7 separate regions of the Homo sapiens genome follow, and all the other regions are reported to be linked to region 4. The links are microRNA targets in miRTarBase. Many come from high-throughput screens and were not tested one by one. Region 4 holds a microRNA gene; each other region holds the end of a gene's coding sequence.
Evidence for each region. Region 4 holds the annotated microRNA hsa-miR-4747-5p (AGGGAAGGAGGCUUGGUCUUAG, at 849-870, shown strand). A microRNA usually pairs through its seed, bases 2 to 8, with sites in the 3' UTR of a target mRNA and lowers its output. Matches are read on the target gene's strand: a 7mer-m8 pairs with bases 2 to 8, a 7mer-A1 pairs with bases 2 to 7 and ends in A, and an 8mer does both.

Region 1 (3,094 bases), not on the chromosome of region 4:
CTCCCAGCCCAGAGCCCCCGGCCAGGCACCCCCAGGGAAGGCTCTGGTGGAGAACCTGTGCATGAAGGCCGTCAACCAGTCCATAGGTGAGCCTGGCTGCCTCCAGCTGGGTGGACAGATGGGGGCTGGAGAAAGGGAGAACAGGAAAGAGGGGTTGCCTGCCCTGTTTCCTATATAAGTCTGAGGAAGGGGAGGGGGTCGCCGTGGGAATGTGCTGTAGGGGGGAGGCAGGTGTTGCTCGGAGCCCCAGCCTCTGTTCCTATGCAGGCAGGGCCATCAGGCACCAGAAGGATTTTGCCAGCGTAGTGCTCCTGGACCAGCGATATGCCCGGCCCCCTGTCCTGGCCAAGCTGCCGGCCTGGATCCGAGCCCGTGTGGAGGTCAAAGCTACCTTTGGCCCCGCCATTGCTGCTGTGCAGAAGGTCAGTCCTACCTTTTTCTTTCTGAGAGCCTCCCCACCCCGAGATCACATTTCTCACTGCCTTCTGTCTGCCCAGTTTCACCGGGAGAAGTCGGCCTCTTCCTGATGGGCAACCACACCACTGCCTGGCGCCGTGCCCTTCCTTTGTCCTGCCCGCTGGAGACAGTGTTTGTCGTGGGCGTGGTCTGCGGGGATCCTGTTACAAAGGTGAAACCCAGGAGGAGAGTGTGGAGTCCAGAGTGCTGCCAGGACCCAGGCACAGGCGTTAGCTCCCGTAGGAGAAAATGGGGGAATCCTGAATGAACAGTGGGTCCTGGCTGTCCTTGGGGCGTTCCAGGGCAGCTCCCCTCCTGGAATAGAATCTTTCTTTCCATCCTGCATGGCTGAGAGCCAGGCTTCCTTCCTGGTCTCCGCAGGAGGCTGTGGCAGCTGTGGCATCCACTGTGGCATCTCCGTCCTGCCCACCTTCTTAAGAGGCGAGATGGAGCAGGCCCATCTGCCTCTGCCCTTTCTAGCCAAGGTTATAGCTGCCCTGGACTGCTCACTCTCTGGTCTCAATTTAAAATGATCCATGGCCACAGGGCTCCTGCCCAGGGGCTTGTCACCTTCCCCTCCTCCTTCCTGAGTCACTCCTTCAGTAGAAGGCCCTGCTCCCTATCCTGTCCCACAGCCCTGCCTGGATTTGTATCCTTGGCTTCGTGCCAGTTCCTCCAAGTCTATGGCACCTCCCTCCCTCTCAACCACTTGAGCAAACTCCAAGACACCTTCTACCCCAACACCAGCAATTATGCCAAGGGCCGTTAGGCTCTCAACATGACTATAGAGACCCCGTGTCATCACGGAGACCTTTGTTCCTGTGGGAAAATATCCCTCCCACCTGCAACAGCTGCCCCTGCTGACTGCGCCTGTCTTCTCCCTCTGACCCCAGAGAAAGGGGCTGTGGTCAGCTGGGATCTTCTGCCACCATCAGGGACAAACGGGGGCAGGAGGAAAGTCACTGATGCCCAGATGTTTGCATCCTGCACAGCTATAGGTCCTTAAATAAAAGTGTGCTGTTGGTTTCTGCTGAGTTTTTTATTGATATGTGCTGCTGTTTTCTCTGGAAGCCTCTTTAGGGAATCGAGGAGCGCACTGGTGCAGGGGCTGGGTGGAGCCATCCTCCGATGGAGCACAGGCAGACGGAAGCCCCCACCCCAGCTGCGTGGCCTCAAGCCAGCCTCCCGCTCCCCGAAGGTGGTCTCCACACAGACCTGGGACAGTTTCATCCCCGCCCCTTCCAGGGCAGCAGGGCTGAGGATCCCATTCTGGCTGTGTCCACGTCCGGGCCATGGCTAGAGTCTGGGTTTAGGGGAGGAAGGCATGGCGGCGCCCGCTAGGATTTCCAGTTGTCCTCTTCTTCCTCTGCCTGTGGCTGCTGGGGGTTAGCAGAGACGGTTTGTTGTCTGACATACGGGCTCTCTCCTCCCGGCCCCTCACCAGCCCCAGAGGTGAAAAGGCTGGAGGGGAAAGGGTGAGTGAGGGAGGTCTGTGGGGAGCACTGGTTTCCCCAGGCCCCAGAGACTTAAACACAGGAAGAAAAAGGCAAGAGAGAATTAACGATGCCACAGCCCATGGCAGACAGCGGCCCTGCCTCCTACCCTTGCGTCTCAGGACCAGCTTGTTGAAGAGATCCCACATCAGTTCCCTGCCTTGGCTTACGGCTCTCACTGCAATAGGAAAGCCACGGAGTGGGGTGTGGGGTTCAGTCACATTTGACCCCCGGCTCCGTGTTCCTGTCCCCTGTAGTGTTTTTGTTATTAGACCCTTTTTTCTCCTTGGTTTAGGAATGGGGGCCCCAGGGCCACCCTTGTCCAGGCTCCCTCTACCGTAGAGGTGAGAATTCCAGGGAGCTACAATTTGAAAACCACTATTTTATGAGCCAAGTAGAACAAGAAATGACAACTATTAAAAAAAATAAGGGATTTCTGACCAGCTAACAACCCCACAGAAAATCCGCCAGGGATCCAGAAATGAGACTGAGGTGGCCTCAGAGAGCTCCCTCCTGAAGGGGATGCTGCTGCTGTCGTCCTGCCCGGCGCCTTGGACTGCAGTGGCCGGGGCCTGGGGTGGGGATGAGGGTGCACTGACCAGCACCGCAGCAGCTGGGGGAGGTTGGGGTGCTGTTAACGTGCCATCTTATAGGTAGGAAGTGGAAATGGGAGAAAGTGTGGGGTGCCTAGGGAAGGAGGTGACTGAGCAGGGAGCCTGGCTGCCATCCTAACACCCAGCTCACTGGGCTTGAGCGACTTGAGCCTGGTGCCAGGGCAGAGTGGGTGATGCTGGGGCCCAGGCTGGCACCATACTTGAGGTCTGCCAGGCAGGTCAGGTAGGATGGCACATCGACCTTGGGGGACTTGGCCCAGGTCTGGCATGTAGAAGTAGTTCTCTGGGACCCATGGGATTAGGTGGGGACATGTGAGAGGTGACAGGGACCTGCAGGAGCAGCTAGCGAGACCTCATGTGCACCCTGCACAGCTGTGGTGGCATAAGGGATTCAATAGAGCCTCTCCTAGAGAGGAGCCTGGCAGGGCCCCCAGCCCTTGCACCTGCCCCTCCCTCTCCACCTTCTGCTCCAGCTGCTCTCTCACTGATGGACAAGGGGCACTGAACAGTTTATCTGTCTCTACCCCCAGC
Region 2 (3,094 bases), not on the chromosome of region 4:
TGCCGCTTCCCCGGCCTGTGCCTCCCTCGGCGTCGTCGGGTCTCCGCGTCTCGGTGGCTTCCTCCTCGTCCCCTGGACTCTCGCTCTCTTCCTCCTGTCTCCTCGGCCCCTTCTCCGCAGGCTGAAGGCGGAGCTGGAGATATTCGGGGAGCAGGTCCGGAGCGCCCCCGAGGTCGGGGCCGGCGAGGGAGAGGTAGGGAGCCCGAGGAAGGGAGGCGGGGCGGGCAGGGACCGAGTCAGGAGAGAGCGGGCGGGGGTCCTGGGAGCGGCCCCCGAGAGTGGGGTCTGTGGGGAGCAGGGCGGCCCCGGGGACAGAGGAAGCCGCGGTGGAGGCCTAGGGCAGACGCGGGCGGACGCGAGGAGCGTAGGAACCTGGTCCGCAGCCTCACCCAGCCCCCGGCAGGCCGGACCTGAGCTCCCCCGCGCTCGCGACGAGGAGGATCCCGAGCCGCCGGTGGCTGCCCCTGACGCCCTCTAGGCCAGCAGGACCCGCCCGTTCCCGACCTTCCCTCGAGACCCGCCAAGAAATAAAGGCGATGATTTCCGACCATGCTCGCGTTCTCCGCGGAGTCTGTGCTACACCGTGGAGCGGGGCGGGGCGTGCTGGGATCTCGAGGCGGGGCCTCTGCCGGACCCCTCCCACCAGTCGAGCCCCGGGCGCCGTACAGAGGCTGGGTAAATGCTCCTGAACTCAGAGAGAGTAAGTGGGTGTCAGTATCCCCCGCCCCACGGCCTCATCTCGAGTTCCCAAACCATCTATGTTGTCAACAGGGGCCGGAGGGCAGGTGTTAACCCATTCCGGTCCTCGGGGCCTGTGCGTCTCCGGTGGTCTCAGGAAACCCAGAGTCTCTGCAAGACCCGCAGACTCGCGCTGGCTCTGGGACATGCCCGCCCATCTGAGCTCCCCTCACAAATTGGGTTCTAGCCAAGGCTGCCTCTCCACCCGTCTCAAACATTCCAAAACACGTGTCCCCTCGGGGCCTTCGCCCTACTGGTCCTTCTCTGGGGTCACATCCCCCAGGCAACCTCAGATCTGTTAAATGTGTCCGCCACTCTGGAGGCCGGCATTTGGGACCCAAATCCAAAGGCACCCAGCAGCAGGCTGCGGCCATTGACTGAGCATGTACTGACTAAGCAGGCATTTGCCGATTGCCTGCTGGGTACCAGGCACTGTTCTAAGCACTGGATTTTAAACAGCGCGGTCAGCGACGGCCTCACCTAGGAAGTGGTATCTGAGCGGAGAAGCGAGGTAGAGAAGCGAGGGGGTGAGCCCTGTGGGTGTCTGGGGAAAGGTGGGCCTGGCAGAAGACATGCCTCATGCCAAGGCGGGAGGTGAGGCTGCACTTCGCTGTGTTTGAGGAGACGTCTGGAGAAGGCCGGCGTGGTAGAGTGGAATGAGGTAGAGTGGGATGGGAGACGACACTGGAGAGTTGCCAAGGACCAGTCAAGTTGGACACTATCTAATGTGTGTAGAAGAGGACCTGGCACACAGTCAGTATTCAGTGAATGCCAGCTCTCACATATTGTTGGGATGATTCACTATTCCCAGTCCCTAGAGAATGGGAACTGAGATGTGTGACTCACTTAGATCAGAGGCTTCTGTCCATTAAGTGATCAGTAAGTGGTTCATATGATTTATTATTATTATTCCCAGGCTACAGATGAGGAACACTAAGGTGTGTATATCTCTCAGAACAGAGATTTTTATAACATAAATGCTCAATAAATGGTATCTATCATTTATTATTCTCACTGCTATTCTTGCTGTTATTCCCAATTTAGCGATGAGGAAAATTGAGATAGTGAATCTGTACAGTAAGCCCTCAATAAACGTTGGGTCTCACGTTTGTTGCCATTATTATCCCAAGTCCACAGATGAGGCCCAGGGAGCTTTAGTCCCCGAGTCACCACTCGCATCCGGGCAGAGCTGACTCCAGGCCCAGGCTGTGGTCCCCTGCCCCACTGACACCACCTACTTGCTAAGGCCAGTCTCCAGGAATCTCTAAGGAACTTCAGTATCCTCTTTGTCATCCTCTCTGTGTCACACAAATGGGGTCAGCCTGGATATTCTGCCGATTTACCACTGGGCACCTAGGATTCGAGTCCTGGTTTCCCTGTTCACCAGCTGGATGACCTCAGGCAAATTGCTTAATGTCTCTAAAACGCAGTGACCAGCTGGGTGCTGTGGCTCACGCCTGTAATCCCAGCACTCTGGGAGGCTGAGGCGGGTGGATCACGAGGTCAGGAGTTCAAGACCAGCCTTGCCAAGATGGTGACACCCCTTGGTTTGGTGGTGGCAGGTGTCTGGAATCCTAGCTACTCAGGAGGCTGTGGCAGAGAATTGCTTGAACCCGGAAGGCGGAGGTTGCAGTGAGCCAAGATGGCGCCACTACACTCCAGCCTGGGCGACAGAGCGAGACTTTGGCTTTTGATTTGCCCTGTGTTCTCCTGACTCAACTGACCTTCCTGGCAGGGCTACTTCTCCTTTCATTGAAATAATTGACAGCTGCCTGGGAAGTCTTCACTCACTTCCTGTAACAGCTTTTCTCAGGGCTTGCATTCAATTACCATAATTCTCAAGCTTCTTGGCTTGTAGTTCAGGTTCAAATGTGAATGAGCCTGGGGGAGCTCAGTGTTGCCAAAAGGCGGAAGGACATTCTTTTTATTATTATTATTATTTTTATTTATTTATTTATTTATTTTTGAGACGGAGTCTCGCTCTGTCGCCCAGGCTGGAGTGCAGTGGCGCCATCTCGGCTCACTGCAAGCTCCGGCTCCCAGGTTCACGCCATTGTCCTGCCTCAGCCTCCAGAGTAGCTGGGACTACAGGTGCCCGCTACCACACCCGGCTAATGTTTTTCTGTATTTTTAGTAGAGACGGGGTTTTACCGTGTTATCCAGGATGGTCTCGATCTCCTGCCCTCGTGATCCGCCCGCCTCGGCCTCCCAGAATGCTGGGATTACAGGCGTGAGCAACCGCACCCGGCCAGGACATTCTTGAAAAAAGTAAGCCAGAAAGAAACCCACTGAAAAACAGAGGAGTCAGAGGAGGGGCCCGAAGAGATGCAAACATAGCACATCCTGAGTAGCAAGC
Region 3 (3,094 bases), not on the chromosome of region 4:
TGTATTGATTTTAAAATTTATACATGCTCTCACTCATAGGTGGGAATTGAACAATGAGAACACTTGGACACAGGAAGGTGAACATCACACACTGGGGCCTGTTGTGAGGTCGGGGGAGGGGGAAGGGATAGCATCAGGAGATATACCTAATGTAAATGACGAGTTAACGGGTGCAGCACACCAACACGGCACATGTATACATATGCAACAAACCTGCATGTTGTGCACATGTTCCCTAGAACTTAATGTATAATAATAATAAAAATAAAATTTATACATGCTCCTAGGCTCAGATTTAGGAATTTATTTTCCATTTAGGTTTTATTAAGTCTAATCCAACAATGCAAAAATGAAACTGTGAGTTATATGTGATGAAAAAGTATAGCTTTCTTGAATTCAAATAAGCAATGGCAAAGATCACATTTAGAATTTGACAGAAAGAACACAGCATCCCTGCCTCGTCTTTTTTATAGATAGTAAGAAAAGGGAAAGTAGTCTTATTTCAAATATCAAAATTCTGACTTAAATGAATAAAATTTAGTCACGAGTAAATACAAAAAACAAGCAAACAATAAAACCTTCCTGGATCAGCACAGGCCCAATTCTTCCCTGCCTTTTATCACCCTGTCAGCTGGGAGTATCTTTTCTACCTGTGGCTCTCTACCAATTGTTACTCTCTTGTTGTCTGAACCTGCTAGCCAAACTTGGCAGGTCGTTTTCAAAGCCAGATGAGTTCTGATTGTTCCCTTGGCAATATCCATTATTTCCCTCCTGGGTAGAAGGAGGATCTGAGGACAGCTTATCTTTTTGGGGTACGTGGAGTAGAGGTGGGGACTCTTATATAATACGAAATAAAAATAAGTTCTTTGGGCTGGAAGTGTCAAAAGATTCCTTAGAATTTATAGCCACAGGGATTTCATGGTGTGTCTGATGTACTGATTTTGTGCCACATTTGAGCCAGAACTGGCAGCAGATTCAAAGCAACACAGGTGGCTAAGTACACATGAGGGGAAGGTAGGTATGGGGAGAGAAAAGTGGCATAAAACAAGGCTGTCCCCCTATGCTCATCGAGAATAGGATCTTAGCCCTCACTGAAGGAGCTTAATGATCAGCTCTAATACATTGGCTGGACTCCTGCAGGTACTCACGGAAAGTAGAGATGCTGAGCTACCTTTTCTTGTCAAAGTCTAGGGCTGGAGATGCTTCAAGAACTTTGGAGCCATAAAGTCACTGTAATGGTCAACTTTTAAGGCTAGAAGAGGCCATGAGACATCTCATTCATCTCCTTGCCTTTGGGCAAGAATTGCACACCTAAGCCTCCCGAATACATCAGACACAATTTAGGGTTAAAAGCCTCCAGAGGGGCAAAAAAGTAAAAAGATTTTACAACTTTCTTCCACAAACCACTTTAATTGTGTGCTCATCACCGACTTCAGAATCTAAGAGAACTTTGACACTTGTTTTTGACACCCCATTGCCTTCTCATCAGTCTAACTCCAAGACCTTCCTCCGAGTGGTAGGCTCTGGTAATTCAGCGAAAGCAAGGCGCTAACAGGCGAGTGTGAAGCCAAAGGGCTCCCAGTGACATCCTTGACATCTTTTTGCCAGCTATTCACATGCATTTAATATACAGCACTTCCCTGTGACTGTCTGCAGCCTTTTCTACCAGCAATTCCTCCTGATTTATCCTTCTCCAGCAATTCCCAGTTGCCTTGCCTTTCTAATAGATGTTGCAGTCTGACAAAACACCTTTGCCTTCATGCTGGTGTTGTTAAAGGACTGATTATAACCGTAAGGAATGGGAAATAAGAAGCTATTCCTTGTAAGTTTGCTAATCTTATCTGTTCAGAATAATAAAAGTTCTCTGTCAAAGACTTAGGAAGGGAGATTTCATCCCCCAGCCTTGCTAGTCCTACTCTTTGTGCATTCTTAAGACAGGAGGCAAGTGCTTTCCATTCTCCTTGGAAAAACTGAGGCTGAATATGCAGCTTGTCATGCAGTTTTGCTGAAGACAGAGAGAGGGTCAAAAATTCAAAAACTCAATTGCTCTAGGGCAGGGGGTTGGGAGCAAAGCCAATAAATAAAATGGGTGGTATAAATGCCTTTCAGGAAAGGGTGTGAAGGGTGGGGTGGATTTACCAGAAGCTTTGGCAGTCAGCTTTGAAGTCTTCTGGAAAGGAAAGTGTAGCCTCCCAGGCAAGCAGCCTCATGACATCTTCCATAAGGCTGATGTGTTGGGAAACAGCAACACATGAGCAAGAAGTTCCTTGAAAAATTTTCTTCCCTCCTTCTTCTTCTGGAACTGTTGGGAAACTAGATTAGACCCAGGAGTCTGGTTTTTGAGAATGGCCCTGAATGAATTTTTAGTTTCCGGGTAGGAACAGAGAGCTGAGAAGGTTGTTTTCTCCTCCAAGGAAATCTGGCCACAGTTTTTTTCCTGTTCTATCTAGAGCTTGTGTGCTGGTGGATTAAGCACATGTGTGCACAGGGCCAGGATTCTGGCAAACAATCTCAGGGAGGATGGCAAAAGGAGAAGCAAAAGGGGTTCATTCCTCTACCTCACAGCTTCTTTTCCCAAAGGAAACAGGATCTACTCACCAGCAACAATCCCAACATCACAAAAGGAACAGGGAAATAAACGTGCATACAACTGGGACACACAGACCCCTGTCACCTGCTACAAATGGAGCAGAAGTGGGAGAGAAGTGAGCCACCGAGAACCTAGGCCTTCTTAGCTGTAGCCTACTTGAAGAGGGCACGGGCTTCCTGACTGGTCTCTGGTGGCCGAGTAACTCTACTTCCCTGACCTGGGAAGAAGGCGTGAATAACCAGCTAAGAGGAGACACCCATCCTCTTAGAGTTGCCTGGGGTATCTGAGGCAGAGGTGGTAGCAGCAGACTCCTCAACAGAGGCACTGAGATCCAAGAATTCCAGGATGATGTCCCCAAGGCAGTAAATCAAATGCCTGAAACGAATGGACAAAAAACTTAGGGTCTGGCTCAATCAGGAAACACAAGATCCTGTTTATGACATTTATTTTCTCCTCCCCCATCACCGACACCCTAAACTTCAATAGCTTGATGAAACCTCTGCC
Region 4 (3,000 bases):
CACCCTCCATCTCCCGGGTTCAAACGATTCTCCTGCCTCAGCCTCCCAAGTGGCTGGGACTACAGGCGTGCACCACTGCGCCCAGCTAATTTTTGTTTTTGTTTTGTTTTTGAGACAGAGTTTCACTCTTGTTGCCCAGGCTGGCGTCAATGGCGCGATCTCGGCTCACCGCAACCTCTGCCTCCCGGGTTCAAGCAATTCTGCCTCAGCCTCCCGAGTAGCTGGGATTACAGGCATGCGCCACCACGCCTGGCTAATTTTGTATTTTTAGTAGAGATGGGGTTTCTCCATGTTGGCTGGTCTCCAACTTCCGACCTCAGATGATCTGCCTGCCTCAGCCTCCCAAAGTGCTGGGATTACAGGCATGAGCCACCGTGCCCGGCCATGCCTGGCTAATTTTTGTATTTTTAGTAGAGGCAGGGTTTCACCGTGTTGGTCAGGCTGGTCTTGAACTCCTGACCTCAGGTGATCTTCCCGCTTCGGCCTCCCAAAGTGCTGGGATTACAGGCGTGGGCCACCTTGCCCGGCCTCTCCTCTTGTTCTAAAGACACCAGTCCTGTTGGATTGGGGCCCACCCTACTGCAGTGTGATCTCATCTTAATATGATTTCATCTGCAAAGGTTCTATCTACAAAGACCCTGTTTCCAAAAACAATCCTATTCGTGGGTACTGGGGATCAGCCTTTGAACATCTCTTTTTGCAGGGGACACGGGCAACCCATAACAATTTTGTACCTGGAATGTGCCTTAATATACCTGTGTGTTCTCAACACCAGCATATAAGCCTGTTGGGAGGGGCCTCTGCACACTGTCGGGAGGGGCCGTCCCACCTCGGCTCGTTTCCCATTGAGGGAAGGAGGCTTGGTCTTAGCACGGGGTCTAAGGCCCGGGCTTTCCTCCCAGCTACCCGGAGAACGGCGTGGTCCAGATGAACTCCAGGGACGTCCGAGCGCGCGCCCGCACCATCATCAAGTGGCAGGACCTGGAGGTGGGCCAGGTGGTCATGCTCAACTACAACCCCGACAACCCCAAGGAGCGGGGCTTCTGGTACGACGCGGAGATCTCCAGGAAGCGCGAGACCAGGACGGCGCGGGAACTCTACGCCAACGTGGTGCTGGGGTGAGCCTCGCGTCCTGGGGCGAGCCCTTCCTCTCTCCTTTCCTCCCCTCCCGGGGCCCCCGGACTGGCTTTGAAGCCGTCCAGCCAGCGCTGTGTGTGCGAGGCCCTTAGCCTCCGGCCTGGCCTTCCTGCCTCCCCTCTGGGGTCTGTTCCTGCTCACTGCTGAGCATCTTTCTAAGACCGACCACCTTGTGCCCCTGAGTGCCTCTGCCCAGGGAACTGTCTCTGACCCCCAGGCCCTGACAGGCAGAGTTGTCAAACTTCCTTTTTCTCATGGTGTTTTTTTTATCGCTCTGTTGCCCAGGCTGGAGTGCAGTGGTTCGATCTCGGTTCACTGCAAGCTCTGCCTCCTGGGTTCATGCCATTCTCCTGCCTCAGCCTCCCGAGTAGCTGGGACTACAGGCGTCTACCACCACACCTGGCTAATTTTTTTGTATTTTTAGTAGAGACGGGGTTTCACCGTTAACCAGGATGGTCTCGATCTCCTGACCTCGTGATCTGCCTGCCTCGGCCTCCCAAAGTGCTGGGATTGCAGGCAGTGAGCCACCGTGCCTGGCCTCAAGCTTTCTTTTTCTCTCTTGTTTGTTTCAAATTTGGTGAATAGGTCCCATTCACAGGGTCAAAATAGAAAGCACCCAAGACCACACATGAAGGTTCTCCCTCCTCTGCCTGGTCACCCAGTTCCCCTTTTTGGCGACATCACTGTTACCAACTTTCCAGGGACATTCTGTTCATAAACATACACGCCAAACCACACCGCTTAGGAGTTGGCAAACTGCAGTCCACAGGCCTGCTGTGGTCCGCTGCCGGCTTTGACTAATAGTTTTATTGGGACGTGGTCACACCCATTTTTATCTTATTACCTGTGGTTGCTTTTGTGTTATAAGAGCAGAGTTGTGTAGTTGCAACAGAGACTATGCGGCCTACAAAGCTGAAAATCCTTCCTATTTGGCCATTTGCAGAATCATTTTGCAAAGCCTGTTCTTTCTCCCTTGCCTCTTTGTGTGTGTGTGTGCGTGTGTGTGTGTGTGTGTGTGTGTGATAAAATGTATGTAACAGAAAATTTACCTTTTTTTTTTTTTTAAAAGACAGAGTCTCCCTCTGTCGCCCAGGCTGGGGTATAGTGGCATGATCTTGGCTCACTGCAGCCTCCGCCTTCCAGGTTCAGGTGATTCTCCTGCCTCAGCCTCCCAAGTAGTTGGGATTACAGGCGCCCGCCACCACGTCTGGCTAATTTTTGTATATATATATATATTTAGTAGAGTCTGGGTTTCACCATGTTGGCCAGGCTGGTCTCGAACTCCTGACCTCAAGTGATTCGCCCGCCTCAGCCTCCCACAGTGCTGGGATTACAGGCATGAGCCACTGCGCCCGGCCAAAAATTTACCATTGGAACCATGTTTAAGCGCACAGTTCGGTGGCATTAAACGCATTTACGTTGTTACGCAACCATCTCCAGCACTTTGTCCTCTTCCCAAACTGAAACTCTGACTCCATGAAACACTCACTCCCTAGCCCCTGACACCTCTGCATCCTACTTTCCATCTCTGTGAATCTGACAACTCGGGGGACCTCCTAGGAATGGGATCACACAGGATTTGTCCTTTGCATCTGTTCACTGACGTCACTGAGTGTGATGTCCTTGAGGTGCATCAGGCTGTAGCCTGGTCGGAATTTCCCTCCTTTTTGTGGCCGAGTGATAGTACGTGACGTGTTGTCTATAAACACGAGCATCTTGGCAACGGCGTTCCAAGTACAGGTACAGCAAGCACGCAGAGGTCCTGGGCTGGGACATTTATGGTGCATCTGTGGCCCGGTAGGGAGGTCAGTGAGCTGCGGGTGATGGAGGGGAGTGGCTGGGGCTGTGGGAGCCTCCTCACTG
Region 5 (3,094 bases), not on the chromosome of region 4:
CATTGCACAACTCTCTTTTGAGGCCACAGCCATACCCTTGAATGCTGGTATAAACTGAAATGAAGAATTAATGGGCAGGTCTACCTGAAATTTTACCTCCCACTAATTTCTAGGAAGTAAGCTAGCTCTGTCTAGACAGGCCTCTACCTGCCTCTCGTGAAAGCCCTAGAAGCTTTGGGTGGTAAATGCCACTTCTGTACCAGGACTTTGTCAAGTTGATTGCTTTGACCATGAAAGCAAACCTTTGGGGGTAGGCAAGGCAAGCGTTATGGGATCAAGTCCAAACCCTTGGTATGGCATTCAAAGCCCCAGCCTGCTTCTCAGCTCAGAGGCCTGCCACTCCAGGCTGCTGTCTGTCCCTGAGCACGCTGTTCCCCTCACAGCCCCCTGCCTGTACTAGCTGCACCCTCTGCCTGAAAGTGACTTCATCTTCCCTCCACGTTTCATCCAGAAAATTTCTTCTCCACTACCCTCGACACTTCTGCGATGAATCAGAATCTCTGGAGGAATGGCCCTTGGGGAATCCATGCTTTTAAAAAGTTCCCTGGGCAATTTGGGTGATCAGCCAGCTTTGGAGACAACAGTGTAAACACACACACACACACACACACACACACACACACACACACACACACAAACACACAGCCTGCCCATCATTTAAGCCCTCATGCTGGTTTCTGTTCTTTTACAGTCATATGCTTGCGAGCTTTCACATCATAACTCAATGGGGATGGAGTGGTGGTGGGAGGTGACACAGAACAAGACGGGGGGAAAACAAGGTGAGAAGAGACCAAAAGGACAGAGCGGGAGGACTGGGGAATGTCCTCCAGCAGGTTTCTTGGACTGGTTTAGTCTCCCAGGAGAAAAGATTATGAAACAACATAGAAATATCCAAGAGGGACTGTGTGACATGCTGAGCATGAGTGGAGAGTCAGGACCCAGGGGACCAAGAAGGCACAGAAGAGTCCCTTTCCCATACCCTGAAGACCGCAAACTTTGAGAGCATCCGGGGGCAGCTCTTGTGCTGGCAGCTGCTGCAGTTATTTCTCCACATAGCTTTGGGGCAGCAGAATGAATCTGTGGGAAACAGAGGCAGCAGGGAAGGTCCAAGCAGCTGCTACAGGATGTGGCAGCTATGAGGATGCACCCTGCCCGCTTTCTACTGCAGGGCATATAATTGATAAGGGCTCCGACTGCTGGCTTTGAACTTCATCCCACATGTGTCCCAAGGCCAGGCCTCCCAAAGACTGAGTGCAGGGGGCAGATAAGGCACGCCTGCTTACAAGAGACACACAATTCCTTTGCTGGCTGACTTTGACTCTGGCTCAAGAACACTTTGAATTGAACAGATGCTCATGTTCATAGCAGCCTTATGCACAATAGCCAAAAGGCACAAATAACAAAGAGTCCATTGATGGCTGAATAAACCAGATGTGGTATAGACATGCAGTAGAATATTACTCAGCCACAAAAAGGAGTGAAAAGTTGATATATGCTACAACACAGATGAGTCTTGAAAACATTCTGCTAAGTGAAATAAGCCACACACAGAGGACAAATGTTGTATGATTCCACTTATATGAGGTCCCTGGAATAGTCAAATTCTGAGACTGAAAGTAAAATACAGGTTACCAGGGGCTGGCGAATAGGGAAGAATGGGGAATTGGTATTTAATGGGCAGAGCATTTATATTGGGGATTATCAAAAAGTTTTGGGTACAGAGAGTGGTGATGGCTACATAACACTGTATATGCAATGTTACTGAAATACATACAAGTGGTTAAAATAAATACTGTGTTACGTACAGTTTGCCACAATAAAAAACAACAAAAATGGGACTATACCATTAAATTTAAAAAGAACACTGAATTTGGCTTTGGGACTGCCGACAAGCTTTGCCAAATCTTCCTGGATTAAATAAATGACCACTAAGACACTTCCGCACAACCTTCTCTCCCTTTTTTCTCCACCTAGGGTCAGACTTGCGTCGAGGGTCTGATGGCTCTCCCAGTCTTCCTTGGTTCCCCACCTATTTCCTTTCTTTTGAGACAGAATCTCGCTCTGTCACCCAGGCTGGAGTGCAATGGTGCAATCTCAGCTCACTGCAACATCCGCCTCCTGGGTTCAAGAGATTCTCCTGTCTCAGCCTCCCGAGTAGGTGGGATTACAGGCATGTGCCACCACGCCTGGCTAATTTTTTATTTTTAGTAGAGGCAGGCTTTCACCATGTTGGCCAGGCTGGTCTCGAACTCCTGATCTCAGGTGATCTGCCTGCCTCGGTCTCCCAAAGTGTCGGGATTACATGTGTGAGCCACCGTACCCGGCCCCTCCTTATTTCCTTTAGCATAGGTATCCCCCAGGACAATCTACACACCTCTCAACTCACTGTGGCATCGCCTCTCAGGGCACCAGGATTCACGCACAGGGTGGATGTAGCCTTTCTACTAGTTTACAGGCAAATGCTAGGCACCTCTCTGGCCATTCTCAGAATTACCAGGGACACAGGCAGAGAAGACGCCGGCTCTCACTGTCAGATGGGCACAAGGAAACGAGCCACACTAGAGTACACACTTCAAAATGTTTTTATTGGATTTAATTTCCCAAACACTGACATTTTAGACAATTTTGCAAGGACTCTGAATTTTTGCAGGGCTATTTTTGGATACTGTAAAAAAAAAAAAAAGAAACAACACACACACACACACACACTCATAGCAGAGCTGCTCTGCTCGCTCTAAGGCCTCTTTGAGGGAAGGACAGTTCCAAAAGGCACTGACCGGTGACATGGGTGGGCCCTGCCCCTCCTCAGGCAGCCAGCTCAGCCATGGCCCTGTCCAAGGGGTCCACAGACCAGTAATCATCATCCCAGCCAAGGAACCAGCCCACAAAGGAGGGAGGCTCAAAGCCTTGCTTCACCACGGTGATGGGCGTCCGCCGATCCCGATTGGCTGGGTCCGTCTCGATGTACCGCTTAGCTGCAGACACACGTGCAAGAAAAGGAAACCCCAGGAATTCTTAGTGCCTCCCACACCAGGGAGAGGGTGACTCAGGACAGGAGTTGACAAAGAAGAGGGTCTATGGTCCTACTGTCCCT
Region 6 (3,090 bases), not on the chromosome of region 4:
ACCCGGAGCCGGAAGGAGGGCTTGGCCAGTGCCACCAAGGACTGCAGCCACAGGGAGGAGAAGGTCACGGCAGGGTGGCCGTCTGAGCCTGGCCAGGGTGACCTTAACCCAGAGAGCCCGGCGGCCCTGGGGCAGGACCTGCTGGAGCCGCGCAGCAAGAGGCCTGCCCACCCAATCCTGGCCACAGCTGATGGCGCCTCCCAGCTCGTGGGGATGGAGTGACAGCCTCAGTCCCCCTCAGCACAGACAAAAGCCAGCAGAGCAAAGCGTCTATACTTCATGGGGTTTCCTCAGTGCCCTTTGGCTGTTGAGGAGTGAGAGAGAGAGAGAGAGAGAGAGAGAGAGAGAGAGAGAGAGACAAGCAGGAGCGTGGCTGCTCGCTCAGTGCCATAGCCTTACCGCAGCCTGCGCGGGAGGCCACAGCCCGTGCCGATTCCAGTGCCTTAACTACTTACCGGATCCCTCCATATTATCATGGGTGTTGTATTTTTCCAAAATGACTTCTTAAACAAAACAAATATTATAATGAATTGTCTGGAGAGGACCTCTTCATTTGAGCATTAGCGTTATTTTGTATTGGTGTGTGTGAGCTTGTTCTTGTGAATCTGTGATAGCACCGTTTGTTCTGTGAGCTGGAAACAGAAGGAAAAAACATACCCTTGGGTACCCATAGCCAATAACTGGAAGAAAATGATGTGAATTTCATGTAAATGACCAGAGGAAAGATGGATAAGATGATAATTTCTTAAATAGACATTTTCCTTTTTTCTTTGTGCTTCATGGTGGAGCTGTCATCTGGTCCTTGGTATTACAGGATGTGGTTGATGAAGGTTTCCAATATGGTTTCAGGCCAAAACCAGGGAAGATTCTAGCTTCAGCCTCATGTCCATTTCCAGTCTGTCAGCATTAGACATGGTCACTGTTCAAGTTTCAAGACATCCATTCTTAACTATAGAGAAGAGTTACTCCCCTGGCGTCTTAACCTATGGAAAACATGCACGGATAGGATATATTTGATTGCCTCCTCTTCCCTTTCAGTATATGTATTATTAATATTATTATTATTATTATTATTATTAGTTCATCAGTTTGCTGTTCTCTGCAGTGAGCAGAATCAAATGGGCAATATTTGTCCTGGGAGACCTGTGCCGCACCCAGGTCCCCGTGTTAACGTGTGCCTGCGGTTGTGGTTGGCACCCTCGGGTGGTAGCTCTTCTACTGTAATGAGACAAGCCTTTCTTCTGTCACTGCAGAATTTAGAAGGGGCCGTGAGCAGTCTTCCCAAGCATGGTCCAGGAGCAGCTCAGAGAGGGTGGAGTGAGGATGCATGCATCCAGGGAACAGGCATCAAGAAGCCAGGGCCGTGCCTGGAGCACTGCAGAGATGACTTTGGAGAAAGCAAAGCAGTGACCCAGTGACCAGGCACATTACTCGTGAGCGAGGTATTCCCAGTCTTCCTGCTAAGCCTAATCCAAGCCTTACCCAGCTGTGCTACTGTCATTTGCAAAGCAAGGAAATACTACTACTGGTAATAAAACTACACATGCAAGATGTCAGATAAGAAATAGGTTTATATTTACCTTCCTGCGATGTGGGGTTGGTGCTTGAAGATAAATGTGCTGTTTCTAGTTTCTTAAATAGCCCACACCCCTGGATGCAAAAAGGCAGGGTTATTTTTACCCATGAGCATCCTGTGCAGGCAATAGACTTCCCTCACTGTCTCCGCCTGCAGGGAGGAGAATGTACCCCACTGCACCTGAGCTCCTGGTCCCTCAGCCAAGACCTCAGGGGTCCCCAGCCAGCCTGCTGCTGGGGACCCCTGTGCTTGCTGCAGTGTATGGAGCCTCTTGCCTTCCCCTGGGGAGGCACCCCTGTACCCCAGCTTCCTTCCCCTGGCCTTTTCTGGCCCCAGTGCTCCTCCTTTACATAGACTTGTTCACACAGAAACGTGCACGCCCCCTTTTCTCCGCCACTTCACCAGTTTCTGAAATCCAACCTCCCAGACTTCACAGGAAGATAGATATTCTTGAGATAATGAAAAGTGATATCTTCGCATACGAAAGGAAAAAAGGTTGAGGTATATATGATTTTTAACTGTATTAGGGGTGTATGAACCAGTTTAAAAACGAGGTTTTATTTACTGTAGAGATGAATGCAAATCAGAACCAATGATCCCTTGGCCTACTTAGTTAAAACCAGTTCATACATCCCTTAGGGTTTTTATTATTATTATTATTATTATTACAGTTGTTATTGTTGTTTTTGTTGTTATTATTATTTGGGGTTTCTTGTGTTTTTTCTTTGCGACTCTCCACACTAAACTTGCAATATTGTGGGGAGAAGCTGTGACTAAACTCTACGCTGCGGTGAGATGTAGCAGTAATCAGCTCCCAGCGACGTGTGTAGCTGGGGCTGCCGCTCGCAATAATCACTATTGATTTAAAGCTTTACTTAGCCTTGATCTGTACCCTCGTAGTCAATAAGGTCTTGCCACATTTTATTAGTGAGGTGGAGAAACGTATTATTTGTTTGTTGTTTTTGCCCTTCCCCCACCCCCCAATATTAAACTGTGAAATTTGTGATTTGTTTAAACTCTGGGTGAATCATAGCTTAGTTTGCATGTCCAGCTAATTTGTTTCTATACATTTTGTTTGATTCTCTTTCTCCTTCTCTCAGGGCTTTTACAAAAAAATATATATATATGGATCTTCTGAAAAGTTTTTTGAGGTGCAAGTTTTTTCTCTTTTTTTTTTTTTTTTTTTTTTCTCATTGATTAATGGACATGATGCTGAGATTCAATCACTACATGAAACACCTGGCTGTGAAAACAAAACAACCCAGAGGGCTGTGTTCCAAGCAGCGCTGGGGAAGCTACGTAACAGTCGGATGCCAGTTTTGGAAGATTCACCATGCGTTCTGACCCTCTGTTCGTCTCTTTCCTCTCCTCTTTCTTCAAGAAGGAAATTGATCCTAGTGATTTCAGCCCATGCATTAAACAGGAAACAATAATAAATTTGTAGAATTCATATTTTTCTAAAGGGAACTTAAAAACTGCTGCTACATGTTATGTACAAAACTGGTTTATGCCAC
Region 7 (3,094 bases), not on the chromosome of region 4:
GTAACCTCCTCCTCTTTCTTAAAACATATTTGGCAAAACATGTTTTTGGCATTGAAGGTCTCCAAGCCTAATTCCCCTCATATTAAAGATGTTTGGATATAATTAGAAATATTTCCTCTCATATTGGGTTAAGTATATGAATCAATCTCCTATAAATAATTTGAGTCGTTGGCAATCTTAAAGTTGTTGGCCTTTGGAATGTAAGGTGTTGTTTCAAAGACAGCTAAGTTCTGGAATCCCTGGACTTTGTTGCCTACTGCTCTTCTGTTTCACAGAGTCGCCTGTGTGAAGTCTTTTCAACTGCCTGCGCAGTTACAGATAGTGTACTCGGGAGGAAAACTTCTGCTCTTTAGCAGAGGGTTATAAAAACGTTGCTTTCTCTCAAAAAGATTTCCTTTTTTTTTTTTTTTTTTTTTTTGCAATTTATTGTGCTTTTTCAAAGTTGCTTGGAAATTTAATTTTGAAACTTGCTTCATGAAGAGCAGCCAAAGATAGCTTCTTTTGTTTCCTTCAATCAGTCGCCTCTTATTCATTGTCAAATCATTCCACCGGCACTTCGGACTTGCTCCGAAATTGCATTGCCTTCCAAACAGAGATGTCCTGCTTCTCTCATTTTTTTTTGGTGCCCAAGTTGCTTGTGAAATCTTGTTTCCTCTATGAAACTCAACATAAGAAAATATTGGAAACAGGGTATTTCTCTGTCTAAATATGCAGCATCGATGATTTTTCCTCTATCAGCAGTCCATGGGATATATTTAGTATTTTGCTTACAAACAATACCTGAATATTGTTTTCTATTTTAATTTTTTAAAAAAGTTTATTTTACTGTCTTTGTGGCCTCACGTCTCTGTCTGTCAGCATTGTCTGGCTAGGACTGGGACAACATTTGCTTAATATACCTGGTTTTGCACCCACATCTGTATTATTGTACTTATATCTCAATTGATTTAATGGCTATAGCTTGCCTTATGAAAGGAGATATCTGGATATACTAGTTGTAAAGGTCACATAGTTTTATTACCATAAGGGATCATCTAATTCATCTTTCTCATTTTACTAATAAAGCAACTGAGATCCAAAAAATAGAAGAGAATCTCCACAAATCACACAGCAGTTTAGACTCTGGTCATCTGACTTGCGGTCCAGCGTACTCACTTGTGACACTCTTCTACCTGGGGTAGATTAAAGCCATCAGGAAGGGTATTGCAGGGATGTGCGTCTGAGAGGGCCTTTCCTAGCCATCTATTAGCCTGCTTTGTTACCACAGGTACCTAATTTTACTTTCTTACATGTCTGTTTCTTTACTAGGCACCTGCAAAATGTGGGTAATGATTTTCAGGAAGATAAAACATTTTAATAATGCTCTCAATAGGATCTGATGGGAATCTTCAGACAACCTTTTGTCTTGCTCTGGATAAACTTTTCAATAAGTAGGAAGTAAGATATTGTTTTTGTTTATTACTGCCACGTTATAAAGCACTTAAGCAATTCCACGTGATACAGGAACAAAGTGAAAGAGGGGCTTATGCAGCGAGAAGAGCAATTCCACACCCTTTCTAAGGCCAGTGCGACAGTGTGAATCCAACTTACCTGTTAAACTACCATGTCTAATTTACATCATTTTCACACAGTGCCATTTAGACCAAGATACTCTTGCTTTCTATTTGATGGGAAGTTACCATTTAGCTCTTCCTTTATTCTGTCGAGGAAGGTTATATTTTTGGCTATGCATCTCAGCTGCATCCAGTTTAAAAATCTTGATCCTCTAGGAAAACGTCTCTGAGTGGTCCAGATTGCTATGATATCTACTTTTTGTACCAAACTCATACCCATCATTATGTGTGTTGAATATAGATTTGAATAACCTACTTTGAGATCATATTTTCTTGACACTTTTAGTCATTTATTTTGGCTCTTTATATGATTATCTGGGAGACCATAAAGATTGGAAACATAAGCTAATAGCTCATGGATACTACATTATAACGTAAAAATAATATTCTCTATGTCTCCAGATTTGATAGACACCCTGTAGTTTTCATAGGGAGAAGAGTCATATTTAATTTAATTTTGAAACTTGCTTCGTGAAGAACAAGGTCGTGTCAAACCCATTACCCAGTGCACCTACTGTGGGCATATGGTACATTGGAATTGATAATGTAAATATCCATGGGCTAATTAAGAATATTTTGTATTTATATTCTTGATAACAGTTATTCAACAAAGAGAATTAATGATACAATTCAGTTTGAATCCCCTATGTGAGAATATAGCTAGTACTATCCTGAAAAAGGTTCATGTTAGGGGAAGCAGGAGCTTTCTAAGATTTTACTGTACTCAGATATCAGGAAAGGTTAGAAAGAAATAAAATAGACTTCCAAATTTCTGTTCATTAGAACAGTCTTTCTGGATAAGTGACATCTTTACAGCCTTAAAGTGTTGCCGTAGACCCCCAAAAAAGTCACCAATTGAATGTGATTGTTTGACAACTCTGGTGACTATTCAAACTTTGACATGGCTTCAGGAAAGAGAAAAGACAAGACCAGTCTAAGGATATTGTTTGCAAACTACCCTATGCTTTATTTCCTTTGCAACAGGGTAGAATACACAATAATTACAGAGGGAAATGACCAAAGATGTCACATTTTGTGCCTGTCTTCAGTCATTCCATGGCATCAGGACATGATCACTCTTCACTTATGACTTTTGTGTGAACCTCCCGGCTCTTCACCCGCAGTTTGTTCACCTGGGACTCAGCAATGTCAGCCCGTTCCTCGGCCTCCTCCAGCTCATGCTGGAGCTTGCGGAATTTAGCTAGATTGGTGTTGGATTGTTCCTCCTGAGAATAAAAATGGAATTGTAAGGAACTCATACTTGCATCTTTCTAGACTCTTTAGACCTAATAGAAGAAAGGACTTGGCATCTATGGAGAAGCAACATCTAGGGATTATCATTGAAATTAATTTTAAGATTTGTTTATTGATGTCATATATATATATATATATATACACACACACATACATACATACGTATCTCACATTCCTATTTTGGCAACCAAAACACATAAAATATATGTACCACAAGTAGAATAAGA

Region 1: miRTarBase lists DDX11 as a target of hsa-miR-4747-5p. Seed matches in the 3' UTR shown: 7mer-m8 at 1,026-1,032.
Region 2: miRTarBase lists SYCE1L as a target of hsa-miR-4747-5p. Seed matches in the 3' UTR shown: 7mer-m8 at 504-510.
Region 3: the mRNA of SNX19 is a reported target of hsa-miR-4747-5p. Seed matches in the 3' UTR shown: 7mer-A1 at 2,809-2,815, 7mer-m8 at 1,009-1,015 and 7mer-m8 at 120-126.
Region 5: the mRNA of GSN is a reported target of hsa-miR-4747-5p. Seed matches in the 3' UTR shown: 7mer-m8 at 2,750-2,756.
Region 6: miRTarBase lists RREB1 as a target of hsa-miR-4747-5p. Seed matches in the 3' UTR shown: 7mer-A1 at 1,278-1,284, 7mer-m8 at 1,851-1,857, 7mer-m8 at 1,886-1,892 and 7mer-m8 at 2,543-2,549.
Region 7: the mRNA of MYH2 is a reported target of hsa-miR-4747-5p. The part of its 3' UTR that is shown has no 7-base or 8-base seed match.

Annotation. Positions count from the first base shown.
Region 1 is chr12:31,103,310-31,106,403 of GRCh38, forward strand. It overlaps DDX11 (DEAD/H-box helicase 11), which reads left to right. Exons shown (of 27, transcript NM_030653.4): 25 at 8-86; 26 at 268-422; 27 at 498-1,490. The coding sequence ends at 527. Among named protein-coding and RNA genes, the nearest start is that of DDX11, 31 kb to the left of the region's middle. RefSeq lists an enhancer at 726-1,225.
Region 2 is chr16:77,212,454-77,215,547 of GRCh38, forward strand. It overlaps SYCE1L (synaptonemal complex central element protein 1 like), which reads left to right. Exons shown (of 11, transcript NM_001129979.3): 10 at 121-193; 11 at 404-762. The coding sequence ends at 478. Among named protein-coding and RNA genes, the nearest start is that of SYCE1L, 15 kb to the left of the region's middle. RefSeq lists silencers at 1-37, 98-427, 538-627, 658-707 and an enhancer at 1-758.
Region 3 is chr11:130,875,590-130,878,683 of GRCh38, forward strand. SNX19 (sorting nexin 19) reads right to left here. Exons shown (of 11, transcript NM_014758.3): 11 at 1-2,965. The coding sequence ends at 2,833. Among named protein-coding and RNA genes, the nearest start is that of LINC02551, 15 kb to the left of the region's middle.
Region 4 is chr19:4,931,839-4,934,838 of GRCh38, forward strand. It overlaps MIR4747 (microRNA 4747), which reads left to right and starts at 849; the gene lies at 849-902. It overlaps UHRF1 (ubiquitin like with PHD and ring finger domains 1), which reads left to right. Exons shown (of 17, transcript NM_001048201.3): 5 at 903-1,118.
Region 5 is chr9:121,332,315-121,335,408 of GRCh38, reverse strand. GSN (gelsolin) reads right to left here. Exons shown (of 18, transcript NM_198252.3): 18 at 2,567-2,975. The coding sequence ends at 2,806. Among named protein-coding and RNA genes, the nearest start is that of STOM, 36 kb to the left of the region's middle.
Region 6 is chr6:7,248,747-7,251,836 of GRCh38, forward strand. It overlaps RREB1 (ras responsive element binding protein 1), which reads left to right. Exons shown (of 13, transcript NM_001003699.4): 13 at 1-3,090. The coding sequence ends at 222. Among named protein-coding and RNA genes, the nearest start is that of SSR1, 63 kb to the right of the region's middle.
Region 7 is chr17:10,518,594-10,521,687 of GRCh38, forward strand. MYH2 (myosin heavy chain 2) reads right to left here. Exons shown (of 40, transcript NM_017534.6): 40 at 2,555-2,839. The coding sequence ends at 2,687. The region is part of intron 2 of MYHAS (myosin heavy chain gene cluster antisense RNA); the gene reads left to right. Among named protein-coding and RNA genes, the nearest start is that of MYH1, 1.6 kb to the left of the region's middle.